Linked DNA regions of Homo sapiens. The protein of the gene in region 1 interacts with the protein of each later gene in a pairwise test. Each region holds a gene or a part of one and is shown on either strand. Other genes may lie near its edges.

Region 1 (8,013 bases):
AACATGGATTAAACTTGAAAACATTATGCTAAGTGAAAGAAGTCAGTCATAAAAAAAAAAATACGATTCCATTTATATGAAATGTCCAGAACAGGCAAATCTACAGAGGGAGAGAATAGATTAGCAATTGCTTTGGGCTCGGGACAAGGGAGGACGGTACAAGCTAAAGAGCATAATGTCTCTTTTTGAGGGAATGAAAATGTTCTGAAATTGTGATAATAGTTACACATCTCTGTGAATATACTAAAAACCATTGAATTGTATGGTTTAAATGAGTGAATTGTATATATCTGAATTATATTTCAATAAAGCTGTTACAAGAAAAATCAGCAAATATCCTAATCAAAATAAAATATACAATCCTGGAGAAAAATATTATGTATACCTACAATGACTTCAAATTACATCATTTTTCACAATAAAGAAAAAAAAATCCCTCTAGAGTAGTTGGGTCCTAGCCTCAGCTTGCCTACTCCCTTCCCCTGAAGTAAGGCCACCTCCTCAGAACGCAGTGTCCTTCAATTAATGTCACTTGAACATACTCCTTTTGGGGGACAAGGGGTTGTGTTCATGTGTACACACAAATACATATATCATGCAGTACTCTCCCCGAAGGGAATTCTCATCAAAACAGTTTTGTCTCTTTATATTTCCATAGATGATTATGCTCCCTTTACATGTCTGTGCTCAGGAAACTACCAGCTAAGCAACATCTTCATCTGGTTCTACCAAGGCAAAGCTCACAGTAGAAGGCCAGGGGCTACCTACTTTGCTAAGGAAAGGCCAGTGAACTGAGAAAAACTTAGCCAAAACCTTCACAGTAAAAGTGGTCCCAATTGCTACCAAAACTGACTCTGAATCCATAGCTTCCAAACCTGGATGACAGTCTGAACGCTCTATGGCTTCTTAAGTGTTCATATTCTCAGGCTCCACCCCAGACCTATTAAACTAGAGTCTCCAGAAGAAGATTCTAGGAATCTGTGTATTTTTAACAGGCTCCCCACATGCTTCTGATATTTGGCTGGGTTTGGAAACCACTGATAGGAATCTTTGCTCATAAGCAGATCAGTGAAGATCACAGTGGATAAAGAAAATCAGCAGCCTGAAAGAGGGGCACCACGACAAATGGCACCCAGGGAAACAGAGCCAGTGCAGGAAACAGGAGAGAATTTCTCAAATGCTCTCATAAGCATCCTTAGAGAGATGTGAGAGGAGCCTGCACGAATAAGAGCAGGTGGCTTCCCACCCCACCCAGGCTCCTGTCTGCCTCCTGCACACTCAGGTCACAGTCACTTGTTCAAGCAGCAGCCTTCCCTGATACCCATCAGACTCAGCCCTGAGGCCATGGCTGGGCAGGAAGATCCACTCCCTGCTGGGCCTGAACCCTCCTCAGCTTCCCAGATCTGGCAGGCAGATTAATCTAATAGAAGAACATGGACCAATGCAAGGAAATATTCACATCAGGCCACTAAGGAAAACATATGGGTTACAAAATTGTCCATACAAACTTGATCTCAATTGTGTTGAAATTTGACCCCTAAATACACACAGGCACACACACACACACACACACACACACACACACACACACACAGAAATAGGTGTGGAAATAAGCCTGGGAGGATATAAATCAGAAAGTTAACAGTGGTCTCCCTGGGAAGTCAGATTACAAGTGATTTTCACTTTCTTCTTTTCACTAAGTTTTCAGCAGTAAACACATGTAACCATGATAATAAGGAGGAAAAAAGCAAACATATTTTTACTTTTTAATCAGGACACAGCTAAGGTAAGAGGGCCTCACAGCTCCCTGACACCCTTTCCTGATCACTCCTACCCCAGCCAATACAGATCATCCTGGAAACCACCCTTGTCTCACAGAGCCCTGCATCCCAATGGGGTTAGCAGGAATTGCCTCCTACGCTGGGGCATTAAGTGAGATAATGCAGGTAAAACACTTGGCATAAGGAATGGCAATGGTAAGTTCTCAACAAATGATGGCTAGTTAATTGCCCTTTATCGTCCACCAACTAGACCAGTGAATTCCTGCTGCCAGACGTCAGGCAATTTCAGAGGCCAAGCCACTGCTCTTCCATCATTCCCTCTACCCCTAAGGAAAAAAAGCAGGTTGTGGAAAACCAAATATGTTGAGCAGGAGTAAGCCTGAAAACAGAAGAGCCAGGAACCCCAGGGAGGGACCAAACTCCTTGGGCACTCTGTCTTTGAAAGCTGGGCAATGTCCAGTAATGTTTCAGTAACAGCCCCAACCTTTAGAAGGAAATTGTATGCAAGTTCAAACAAAAATGCGCTGGACAGGTCATCTCTGGAAAGCTTGAGCTCAGCTACGAACTCTGCCACTGGCTCATGGAAGATCTCTTGGTTTCAAGTCTTCACAGAGGAAAAATAACCCCTCTCCACAGAGAGTTGCAGGACCAGTGAGGAAATGAAGGGTTACCCTCAAGGGTAGGGTTGTTACCTTTACTATGGCTACCAGGAAGGCCAGGTTTGCCCAGACCTTTGGGCAGCTGCCGCCCAGCTGTTATTTGGGGGAACTCAGTCTGCTACTTAGGGGCTTGGGAGTGAAGCCTACTGTTCACTTCTTTCCACCTCAAACCCTGAGGCAGCCCTGGGACCCTCCTAAGGGATTGTTCTTTCTTGGAGGAGAGAATTCTCCCATCTCCACTGTGGCTCAGATACCCAACAAAGTCAAATTGCAGCCTCCCCACAAGGCAGCAGGGCCAAAGGGCCCAGCACCTGTCCGCTCCCTGAGCCAAAGGAAAGTGGGTGAATGAGATCTCCAGTTGCTATAACAAGACCTTGATTTAACCTGAGCTGCTTGCTAATGAGAAACTCCGTGGTGACAACCCAGGTCTCTGAAAGATTAACCAGAGCGTGATTATTCCAGCCAAGTGAGGCAGAACCAACCGCAGTTGGCACTCATGGCCGGGCAGCAGGTGGTGTCCAGCAGCTTGCTTGGACTGAGCCTGTGCCCTGAGCCCCTCCTGGGCAGTCACAGGAGAAAGGGGCCAGAGAAGGTGCCCCTAGATAGAAAGAGCACCTGCTCCCAGCCTCCCCTGTCACCACGAGGGGCTGCGTTTCTGGGCGCTGGGAGCAGGGTGAAGCAGCCCCTGCCGCCAGCCCCAGCGGGCACTTACCAAAGGTGGTGAGGTAGAAGGACAAGTCCGGGTGGGCACGCCGGCTCCCGAGGGAGACGCGGTGCAGGGAGCGCTCCATGGCGTCCCACTGCGACCCGGACAGGAGCGTCTGCAACCCGAGGCGGCTGTGTTGCTCCCCAGTAACCGGAGTCTCCAGGGCGGGAGGAGCGCGAGCGGGAGGTAGGGCTGCCCCAAGCGTTGGAACGGCCAGGGCGCGCCCGGCCCTGATTGGCCCGCGCGGGTTTGAATGGGGAGAGTTCCACCTGCCGGAGCAGAGCTGGGCCGGGGTGGGGGAGGCGGCGCCGCCGACCCGCGCTGAGCAGCGACGGCAGCCACCCAAGGAGCCAGCAGGACGGTGCGGCCACCCCGGGTATCCCGGCCCCAGCACCGCGCTCCCGGTTGGAAATGCCAGTCCCACGAGAAGGCCCAGTCCGGGGTGCCCACTCTGGGCAGGCTTGGCCTCCTCGTCCAGCTCTCCTAGACCAGCAATTAGTCGGGTTTATAACCTGCTTTGAAGCTCAGGCCTATAATCATTAGATCCAAGCAAAGGCAAAGGAGCACCCGATGGCCCAGGGCAGTGAGGTTTGGAAAAGTGTTCTCTGCGCTTGGACAGGTCGCCCCCCACCATGCTGCATCCTCTTCCCAAACCCTGCATCCTGGATCACTCTCTTGAGCCTCCTCTTGAACAAGTGCTGCCTGACACAGGTCCGGATGGGAGCAGCTTGCTCCAACCAACCTGATGGCCCCCCGTCCCACAGCCTGATGCCATCGGACAGCAGGACAGGCCCACAGCCTCTGAGAAAGAGGAACGCACAGGAAACGGAGTGGGGTGGGTGAATCCCCCAGCCTGGTGCGGGGAGGCAGAGCTGGAAGGTCAAACCCTGCTTTGCTGCTTTGTCAGCAAACATTTACAGGACACCTCCTCGTAGCAGTTTCACACCAAGACATCTGCTCTGCAAATCTCTGTTGCCACTGTGGGAAGGAAAGCTGTTAGTCTCGTGTAAATCTAAAAATGGGAAGTGTTGGTATTTGTCCCTGTTCCCCAGACTTCATCGCCAAGTGGATATTTGTGGTTCAGTGATCCACTCAAAAACAAGATGGGGAGATGCAAGACAGAAAGTGGAGAGAAGAGTTATGTGTTGAGTACCAGATGCCAGAGGCTGAGCTGAGCTGGGCAATTTACACACATCATCTCAGTTAATCTTCACGGTAAGTCTAATAAGTATTAGCCCCAATTTACCAGGAAGAAATCTGAACCTCAGGCAGAGAAGACAGGTGACATGCCCAAGGTTTGCAGAGCTAGGAATAGGCAGAGCTGAAATTTGAACCCAGGCCTGTCTGCCCCAAACGCCATTGTCCTATTCTTCCTTGGCCTCCACATCTGCCCCATGGCCAACAGCAGGTGGAAGGAGCAAACGCCACAGGGTCAGGTGGCCACCAGCGAGGAGCAGAAACTGCAGAAGGAGCCCTGAATCAGCAAACTGGTGATAAATCACATAAATGCCGTAGGATTGTTTGAATCCTGGCACTTCGTGAAGTCCTGCCCTGCTCTTTACTGCACCCCCCCACCCCACCCCACTCTCCCCCTCCAACCCCGGTTACACACACACATGGTGAACACTGCCTTTAACAAGAGCAGGTCCACTCTCCTAGCCTCAAGCCAGTGACAGATGGACTTACCTGCACCCTGGACTTTGGCATGCGTGATCCTCTTCCTGGCTGGAGAAGTTTGAGTCCACTCATCTCTTCTGGGCAGAGCGATATCAGGGCTTAGCCACTCCATCCAGCCAGGGAATATGGGCAAGCTCAGGCTCAAGCCACAGGATGTAGAGAGGACACTGAGCACAGAGACGTGGCAGACCTGCAGGAGCAAGATGGGAGCATGAGTTAGCCATGGCCTGAAGATGCTCCATGCAAGGTGTGTTCACTCCCAGTAGGAACTAGAAAGCATGGTGTTCAGGAAACAGCAAAGGAAGGCCCACAGGGAAAAGGGAAGGTGATGTGCCTGAGATGATAGTCACCTCTTCACAACTTCGCCAGGGACCACTGTAGAGCCTCCTCCCAAAGGGGAGACTATCTTGGGCTCCAGAGGCTGTGAGCAACCTGCAGGTACAACACTCAGGACGGTGAGATCCAGAAAGAAAATTGGGCAAAGGTGTGCTGTCTGAATGTGACCTAGGAGAGAAAAGACCGAGGCCCACACTGGGCACTTACACCCGGTAATGGGAACAAAGATTCTACTGCTTTGTAGGTCCCCTCCTGACTCCTGCCCCACTCTGCAGCTAACATATTCAGTTGGAAGATTGCAAGGCCAGCCTGATCCTGAGCTGGCCCCTCTGATGGTATCACCTTCACCACCACCAGTAAGGCTCCTTTACTCAGTAGCGTGCTGGAAGCTTCCTTTTCCTAAAAGGACAGGTCGGTCACCCTTTCCTCAAGAGATGGAGGAGAGAGGTGAGTGGGAGCTTGGGCAGGGCACTTCAGGAGAGACTGGCCCTATTAACCCACACTGCTGTCCAAAAGCAACATCCAGAAAGGCTCATGATCATGGCCCTGCTTTCCCCAAGAAGGCAGGAGAGTTGGACCAAGCCTGGCTTTCTCACATGTCCTGAGCATTCTAGCACCCCCTGGGGTTCTTCCACCTCACACATGTGCACACACACTCCACACATACATTATCATACCACACACGATAACAATCATACACTCTGCACACATACATACACATACCTCAACATATCCCATGTACACACACAGTCACATCATATGCACATATACACATACATAAACACACTACATACACACCTCACATACATATACAAACACACCCCACACATTATATATGCATCCTATGCATATATATAAGCACACATCACACTGACACATGCACACAAAACACATACACTACATATATACCATATGCATATATACAGATTGATTTGAAGCACTTAATAAAGTATCGAGCAATGATTTTAGGCATTTTTTTAAAGACTGACTATATCTGGAATAATAAGGAATACTTGAGTTTGAAAAGAAGGGACTAAATGGATTTATTTGGGTGCATTTTCACAATAACTCTCAAAGAATCTTAGTGACTTTAAGATATCATCTAGCCCAATAATAACCAAGAAAACTTAGAAAAATAATAACAAAGGGAACTTGTACTACCAGATGTTAAATGGTGTTAAATAATATAAAACTAAAAAGAAAAGACAGATCGATGGAATTAGAGTAGAAAGTTCAAGGGGATAATTTATTTAGAAAATAACAAAGATTTAAAGTGTTTTAACTAAAAATTCATTTCAAAAAGTTAGAAGAGGAATAAGCTAATTCAGAAGAAAAAAAAATTTTTTTTTTTTTGGAGACGGAGTCTCACTCTGTCACTCAGGCTGGAGTGCAGTGGCGCAATCTCGGCTCACTGAAAGCTCCACCTCCTGGGTTCACGCCATTCTCCTGCCTCAGCACCCCCCGAGTAGCTGGGACTACAGGCACCCGCCAACACGCCCGGCTAATTTTTTGTATTTTTAGTAGAGACGGGGTTTTACCTGTTAGCCAGGATGGTCTCGATCTCCTGACCTTGCGATCTGCCCATCTCAACCTCCCAAAGTGCTGGGATTACAGGCATGAGCCACTGCGCCTGGCCAGGAGAAAATTTTAAAAGGAAATAAGGTTAAAGGTGAAATTTATCCTCAAAAAAATAAACTTCAACAATAAGACCAAAGCCTTGTCTCTGAAAAGTTCAGTAAAATAGACCTCTGGCAAAATGTATACAGAAAACCAGAAATAAGCAAGTTTAGGGAAGAGAAAGCCAAGATATACAGGTGATTTTTTTTTTTTTTTTTGAGAGAGTTTCTCTCTTGTTGCCCAGGCTGGAGTGCAGTGGTGCGATCTCTGCTCACTGCAACCTCCGCCTCCCAAGGTTCAAGCAATTCTCCTGCCTCAGCCTTCCGAGTAGCTGAGATTACAGGTGTACACTACCATGCCCGGCTAATTTTTTGTATTTTTAGTAGAAAGGTGGTTTCACCATGTTAGCCAGGCTGGTCTCAAACTCCTGACCTCAGGTGATCTGCCCACCTCAGCCTCCCAAAGTGCTGGGACTACAGGTGTGAGCCACTGAGCCCGGCCTCTTTTTTTTTATTTTTTTTGAAACAGAATCTCGCTCTGTCACCCAGGCTGCAGTGCAATGGCACAATCTCAGCTCACTCCCAGGTTCAAGCGATTCTCATACCTCAGCCTCCCAAGTAGCTGAGACTACAGGCACGCGCCACCACACCTAGCTAATTTTTGTATTTTTAGTAGAGACAGGTTTTCACCATGTTGGCCAGGATGGTTTCGAACTCCTGACCTCAAGTGAACCGTACACCTTGGCCTCCCACAGCGCTGGGATTATAGGCGTGAACCACCGTGCTGGCTAATATTTTAAATTATAAGAGAAAACCACTGCAACCTTATTGTATAAATTTGAAAATCTGAAAGGAACTGGATGATTTTCTAGAAAGTATTAATTAGTAAAATTGATAAAAAGTTTGAAATTTTTAATAGATCACTAACTATAGATAAAATAGAAAAGGAAACCAAAACTCTATTCGACAAAATTATAGAAAATCCAGATAGTTTTAAGAGGCTAATTCTATAAGATCTTCAAGAAACAGATGATGCTAATGTAGTTTTAACTATTTCAGAACATAGGAAAAAACAAAGATGTGTCAGCGCTAGGTAGAAAGCTAGACAAAGACAAAAACCAAGTAAGGTTAGAAACAGAAAACTATAGACCAAAGGTAAAAGATAAAAGTAAGAATAGAAGTTAATTAAATAGAAAATATACAATAGAGGCTGGATGCAGTGGCTCATGCCTGTCATC
Region 2 (7,563 bases), on another chromosome or scaffold:
GTGGTGTGTGCCTGTAGCTGCAGCTACTTGGCAGACTGAGCGGGGAGGCTGAAGTGGGAGGATCACTTGAGCCTGGGAGGTCAAGACTGCAGTAAGCCATGATTGCACCACTGCCTTCCAGCCTGAGCGACAGAGTAAGACCCTGTCTCAAAGAAAGATAAAAGTATTTACAAGTTAAATTTTATTTAAACATGTTGAATTATATTTAATAAACCTGAAGTGTTTTTTCAGAGAAAGCATTTATAAGCATTTTATATACTTATAAACATAAGTATATTTATGCTTTATAATCAGAGAAAAATTAGAACTAATTTGCCATTTTATAATCAGAGAAAAACTAGAACTAATTTGAATAAAATTGACTGAAGCGTGGAATAGCCACAAAACAAAATACTATCAATAGTTCCAGACAGAAATAGATACCATAAATATAACAAAGTGGAAGAAAAACGTACAAAACACTATATATAATCTGATCCTATCTGCTTTGGTATATGCATATGAAAAGCTAAATGAATATACAACAAACTTAAAAATAAAGGAAAGTCATCTCTTTTGAAGAAGGAATATAAGGCAACTTTTATTGTGTAACATATTTCTAATTTCTTTCTACATAATTATTTCAACATCTTTTTAGGAACGTAGGCTCCCTGCCAGTCCTCCTAAAGTCCTTAAAATTCATAGTCATATTCTCATTTTCTCTTACTCTTCTCTTTCAAGTCTGTCACTTTATAAACTCCGAATCTTTTGTCTCTCACCTCTCTTCCTATTTAAATCAGATTTTTCTGACGTCATCTTTTTCTTTAAACTGTATTTCTGATCTCAGAGTTGTTTTTTGTTTGTTTTGCTTGTTTGTTTGTTTTTGCCCAACCTTGGGTCATGTTTTCCCTTCTAATCATGACTTTTCTTCCAGATTTCTCTTCATACTCTCTGCTGCCCAACCACCTGAGAAACTATTATCCTATTTCTCTTTTATTTTTGATGGCTAACCTTCTCAGCCACATTCATAATTCCTGAGCATACAACAGCAGGAGCTTGAGGGACAGAAGTGGGGTTTGTGTATGCATGTACCCCGGATGTGTAGCACAGTGTGTGACCCACACTAGGTAGTCAATAAGCAAGTGCTTAATCGATCTTTCACTTTTTCTACTTTTTTTTTTTTTTTTGAGACGGAGTCTCACCGTATAGTCCAGGCTGGAGTGCAATGGCATGATCTCAGCTTAATGCAACCTCCGCCTCCCGGGTTCAAGCGATTCTCCTGCCTCAGTCTCCCAAGTAGCTGGGGTTACAGGCATGCGCCACCACACCCAGCTTATTTTTATATTTTTAGTAGAGATGAGGTTTCACCATGTTAGTCAGGCTAGTCTTGAACTCCTGACCTCAGGTAATGCACCCACCTCAGCCTCCCAAAGTGCTGGGATTACAGGCATGAGCCACCACACCCAGCACTTTTTCTACTTTTTTTAACCAACTTCTCAACCTCAAGAAATTTAATCCCACTAATTGCTAGTCATGTCTTCCTCCTGGCCAAACTGAAATAGCTTTTTATTCTTACGTTAATCTTTCTACTTCTTTTGACACTGTTGTGAGTCATGCTCCAAATTAAGTTAGTCCAAATTTAAAATCTTTTTTAACTTAAAAACACACAGAAACAAGGCAAGCCACTGAGTAGGATAAGATATATCTATCATTTCCAAACAAAACAAAAAAAATCAATAAGAAAAAGACATTCCAATTACAAAATGAAAAAAAAATTTAAACAGGTATATCATAAAAAAAAAGATCTTCAAATGTCCTATAACATATACAAAGATGTTAAACCTCATTAATTATCAGTGCAATGTAAAAGAACTCGACAAGTCAATATCACAACATGGCTGTCAGAATAACTAAAATGAAAGACAGGTGGATCTACTGATCCCACTTTTGGGTATTTGCCCAAAACATTTCAAGTCAAGATGTCAAAGAGATGTCTGCACTCCCATGTCATTTACTATTTACAAGAGCTAAGTTATGGAATCAACCTAAAAGTCCATCAACAGATAAATGAATAAAGAAAATGTGGTATACATATACAATATAATACTATTCAGCCTTTAAAAAAAGAAAGAAATGTTGTCATTTGCAACGACATGGATGGAAGTGGAGAACATTATACCAAGTGAAATAAGCCAGGAACAGAAAAACAAATAATGCCTATTCTCATTTATACGTGGAATCTAAAACAATTGAGTTCAAAGAGGCAAAAAGCAGAATGGTGGTAACCAGAGGCTGAGGGGAGTGGGGAACGGGGAGATAATGGTCAAAAGGTACAAAGCCTCAACTAGACAGGAAATTATCTTTTTTATTTGAGATATCTTGACATCATGGTGAAGATATTAATAATAATGTACTTTCAAAATCTGAGAGTAAATTGCAAGTGTACAACAAAAAAATGTTAAGTATTTGAGGTGATGGATATGGTAATTAGCTTGATTTAATTATTCCATTGAATTCGTAAATCATAACATCATTTTGTACCCTATGAATATATACAACTATAATTTGTCAGTTTACAACTTACAAAACTAAAATTTTTTTTAGAGACCTAAAAAATAAGAAAAAAGGTAGGCAACACTAAGTGCTGGTAAGAATGTGAAAGAACTAGAAATCTCATACACTGCTGTAAGGAATGTAAATTGGTGCGACCAGTTTGGAAAACAGATTGGCAATATCTACAAAAGCTAAATATCTGAACACCTTATAACTCAGCAATTCTACTCCTAAGCATATACCCAACAGAAATCCATATATATGCTCCCCAAAAGACACATTGTTCATAATGGCACTATCCATAATAGGCAGAAACAACCCAAATGTCCATCAACATAATAAGTTATAATATATTCACCAATAGAATGCAGTGAAAATGAACGAACTATTGCTACATGCCATAACATAAATGAATCTCAGAAAATAATATTGAGATGAACAGGCCACATATGAAAAGTAAATACTATATGATTCCATTTACTTGAAGCTCAAAAGCAGGCCAAACGATCCATGATATTTAAAATAATGATAGCAGTTACCTTCATAAGGAGGTAGGGACCAAGTGGGGGAAAGGAGACTTCTGCGGTGCTAGTAATATGATATTCCTTGATCTGAATGTTGGTTACATGGGATGCTCACTTTATGAAAATTTGTTGAGTTGTACACTTTTTATACAACTCAACAAATTTTTTGAGCATTTTTCTGTACATTATGCCTAATTAACACCTAAAAACAAAAACACATACATACACATATGCACATGTTCACATACTAAAATTATTACCCACATGAAAGTTGGCAAATATGAACTGGTTGGTTGGGGTGGTAAACTGGATGTGGAAGAGAGTAGGGAGGTTGGAGAAGAAACCAAGTGAGTGGATGAAGGAGGGAAAGTATGTAAACAGGAAAAGCAGAGCAAAGGCTAAATAATGAATAGTAGAAAGGAAGCCCATAAAGAGTCCAAGAACGCTGATTTAACTTCTCTACCTATCCACCCACTTTACAAGGTTATTGTAAGATCAAATGAGATCATGACTATAAAAGTCCTTTGTTAAAAATGCGTTCCTCAAATTTAAGGATAATATATAAAATGTCCAGGATATCTCTTAAATTATAAGGTTCAATCTATTCTAGAGCTGGAAAAAATCTTTGGGACAAAATCAAGACCTTAGCAGGATACACAACTTAGCAAATGTCATTCAGGTACTTAGTCTGTGAATAAGATCTGGAATCCTGTGCTACGGACTTTTCTTCAAGTAGTCATTTCACTATACCAAGTACCTATGGATATTACCATACCTTTAAACAATTTTCACATATTTTTAATCATTGATTATTGATTTTTTTAATACATGCCCTGATACCTAGCTTTCATTTATCATTAGATTGTTGTACCGAAAAGGCATAATCAAGTATGTAGGGCCGGGGGAAGGGGTAATAAAAAAGATTTTTGTTTATGTTGGTTGAACAATCATAATCATGAACTAAAATTACCTAATGCATAATACCTTATGCATTACATAAACATAATGAAGGCATGGCTCTCTGGGACCCAATATTTCCAAATATCACTAGGTATATCCACTAATTGACCCAGTCTGGTTAGCAGTTCTGTTGTTCTTTTAATTACAGAAGTAATAACACTCATTGAAACAAACAAATTAAATACAGAAGTATACACAAAAGAGTTTGCATGTCTTACTCCATACCTATCACATACAGACACATAGACAGAATTTTTCCTTTGTAGGTGTGTCATTTATTGTTGTTTGCCATTTTAAAAAATGAGATCAATCATGTTGTATATGTTATCCTAAAACACGCTTTTGCACCTAACAGATACCTCCCTGCGTCATACCTGCAGATCTAGCCCATTCTTAAGAATGTGCCATAATTTATTCTGCCATTTTCTAACAAATGGTCATCCAAGTTCTGCCCAGTTCAATTTTTACAAATATGTTACAAGTTATACTTGTTTATATAACCTAAAGTACCAAGGCTTTTGTTTACTTTTGATAGACTTCTAAAAAGTATCAGCATATTTAAATCAGTTGTAGCAATTCACACTTCCACCAACAATGTGGGAGCCTAAAGCCTTACACTTTGGCCTACACTAGATGTTATCATTTCTTTCATTTCTGCCAATCTATGTAAAAGAAATGATAGATCCATATTTTGTTTGCATTTTCATATCTTTACCTTTAGTCATATTCATTTCTTCTTCTGAGATTTGCCATTTTTCTATTGGGTTATCTCTTTTTTAAAATCAATTTTAAGAACTGTTTAATCTGTTAATGTTTAAAGGGCACAGAAGTCAGGAAAGTTAATCGATTTTGTTCAGCTCAATATCCTCACAACAAAGACCAGTGCCTGACATATAGTATACCCATTTAATATGTACTGATGAATATAGAATATTAAACCTTTTTGTTATATGTTACAAATGTTTTATCTTAGCCTATCAATTTCTTTACATAGTCTCTAGCTATACAATGATTTTGTTGTAGATGTTGATGTTTTTATAAGGAAATAATTATCTATTTTCTTTATCAGTTCAGGGTTTATTCTCTTAAGAAAGCTTCCCTATCCTGAGGTATTAAAATATTTATCAAAATTTCCTTTTAATATTTTAGAGGGTATGTTTTTTAATATGTAAACCTTTAACTGAATTTTATATGGTGGGAGGCAGGGGATCTCTATTTTTTTCTGGATGGAGAGTTGTGTTAGTCCATTCTTGCGTTGCTGTAAAGAAATACCTGACACTGGGTAATTTATAAAGGAAAGAGGTTTAATCAGCTTACGGTTCTGCAGAGTGTACAAGAAACATGGTGCCAGCATCTGCTCAGTTTCTGGTGAGGCCTCAGGAAGCTTTTATTCAAGGCAGAAGGTGAAGCGGAAGCAGGCAGAAGGAGGCACATAACACAGCAAGGGGGGAACAAGAGAGAGTGAGGGACAGGGTGCCACACTTTTAAACAATCAGATCGCACATGAACTCAGAGTGAATACTCACTCATTGTCATGAGGACAGCAACAGGCCATTCATGAGTGATCTGCCCCAGTGACCCAAACACCTCCACTAGGCCCCACCTCCAACACTGTGGATTACATTTCAACATGAGATTTGGAGGGGATAAACGTCCAAACCATATCAAGAGTCAATTATGCCATGCTTTTCTAAATGAACAGAAATATTATTAAGTAACCTTACATATCACACTTCTTGATTGTTTCTATCCCACTGAGCGACTATCTGTTCCTGTGTAATACCATACAGTTGTCATTACAGTCAATTAATACCAAGTATAAATCCCTGGTAGGACAAGGCCCCTGTCTTCTTTGTAAGGGAATGTGAAAACTTCTTTCTTTTTTTATTTTTTTTGAGACAGAGTCTCGCTCTGGTGCCCAGGCTGGAGTGCAGTGGCGTGATCTCGGCTGACTGCAACCTCCGACGCCCTGGTTCAAGTGATTCTCCTGCCTCAGCCTCCCAAGTAGCTGGGATTACAGGCATGTGCCACCACACCCAGCTAATTTTTGTATTTTTAGTTGAGACGGGGTTTCACCATGTTGGCCAGGATGGTCTTGATCTCCTGACCTCGTGATCCACCCGCCTCGGCCTCCCAAAGTGCTGAGATCACAGGCATGAGCCACCGCACCCAGCGTGAAAATTTCTTTTTGTGAAGTTCATTTCTTTTTGTGAGGGAAAACTTTTTTCAGTTCTCAGAATTTTACTCTTCAGCATGAGCTTTCAATTCATTGCATTCTCCCACACAGGAAAAAAAAATCCATTAGGATTCAGAATGGATTAACTGCTCTATTGCTACTGACTTTTATTTCATACTAGAAAATGTCTAATAAAACATCTTTATCAAAGTCTCATTGCCCCTTTTAAAAAGAGCATTTATAAATAGACTTTTGAATTTACTCATTTTGATTTTGAATGGCATTTATCATTATGGGTTATATTTCCTTAATATATGAAATACTTTAGATTTTTTAAAGCCTACTGAGGTCACTTTGGTCTCTGTTCCCACTTATTTCCAAATATAACTAAGGGGTTATTTGGCTACTCTGCTCAGAAAGAAAAATAAGTATCTTTAAATAATCTAACAATATACCATTCTCAGTCACTTTTGGAAACAAAATATCCTCTGTCAATAAATAACAAGAAAGAGCTTGAGTTTTTTTTTCATGACATTATATTTGAAGAGAATCTTTACAACAAATGGAACAAAACAGATTTGTTTTATGATTTTAAAACACTTTTTGTTTTGCTCTACTTATTAATTTCAGTCCCCTAGTTTCTCAGGAAAAAATAAAATCACACAATTGTTTTTTCTTAACATGATGAGGCAAACTATAAGACATACACCTACTGCTGTGCATCCTGTTCTTTTCTCCAGGATATTCCATTTCATTTCTTCTTAGTACCAAAAATATTATGATAGCGGTGCTATAAAGAAAACTGACTGGTCTGGGAGTTCAGTGACAACCACTCCTAGATCTACTTGCACTTGCCACAACCTCGTTGTGTGATCTTGCCATTCTAACTCTCAGATTCAATGAAAGCTGTATGTCTTTTAAAATTTATCAGTTGCATCAGACCATATATATAACTCAGAATAAGTTCAAAGATTTAAGCAGTTTCTAGAAAAAAAATTTTTCTCTCTACTTGAATGAACTATTTATACCAAGTTTACAAAGATGAAAGTTATTTCAGTGAAAATGTATAAATGGATAACTAGCTTCACATTTATCATGAGTTGGGGCTGTCATTTGACTTTTGTCATAACATTTTACCTAATCCACAAAATGTTATTTTCAAATAAGACTTTGGTGCTTTAGAAAAAGCACCAAAGAGCTTTTTCTAAAGCTGTACATGCTTTGAGAAAGTAAAGTGAGCCATGAAAGGAGAAAATAAAGGCCTAGTTTTTGTATCCCAATAGATTTTTACCAAGCTTCCCCTGAAGAAAGTTTAGAATGAGCATGATGGGAAAAGGGAGAAATTGTATGCTGCAGATAGAGGGAGGAAAG

What was found.
Region 2: the proteins of RGS3 (region 1) and DEPDC1B interact in a two-hybrid assay, tested with the Homo sapiens proteins (one study listed by BioGRID).

What each region holds. Positions count from the first base shown.
Region 1 is NC_000009.12:113,459,021-113,467,033, reverse strand, and holds the start of RGS3 (regulator of G-protein signaling 3), read right to left. Parts: upstream 3,308-8,013; 5' UTR 3,232-3,307; coding exon 3,153-3,231; intron 1-3,152. UniProt on the Homo sapiens protein: Down-regulates signaling from heterotrimeric G-proteins by increasing the GTPase activity of the alpha subunits, thereby driving them into their inactive GDP-bound form.
Region 2 is NC_000005.10:60,689,906-60,697,468, forward strand, and holds part of DEPDC1B (DEP domain-containing protein 1B), read right to left. Parts: intron 1-7,563.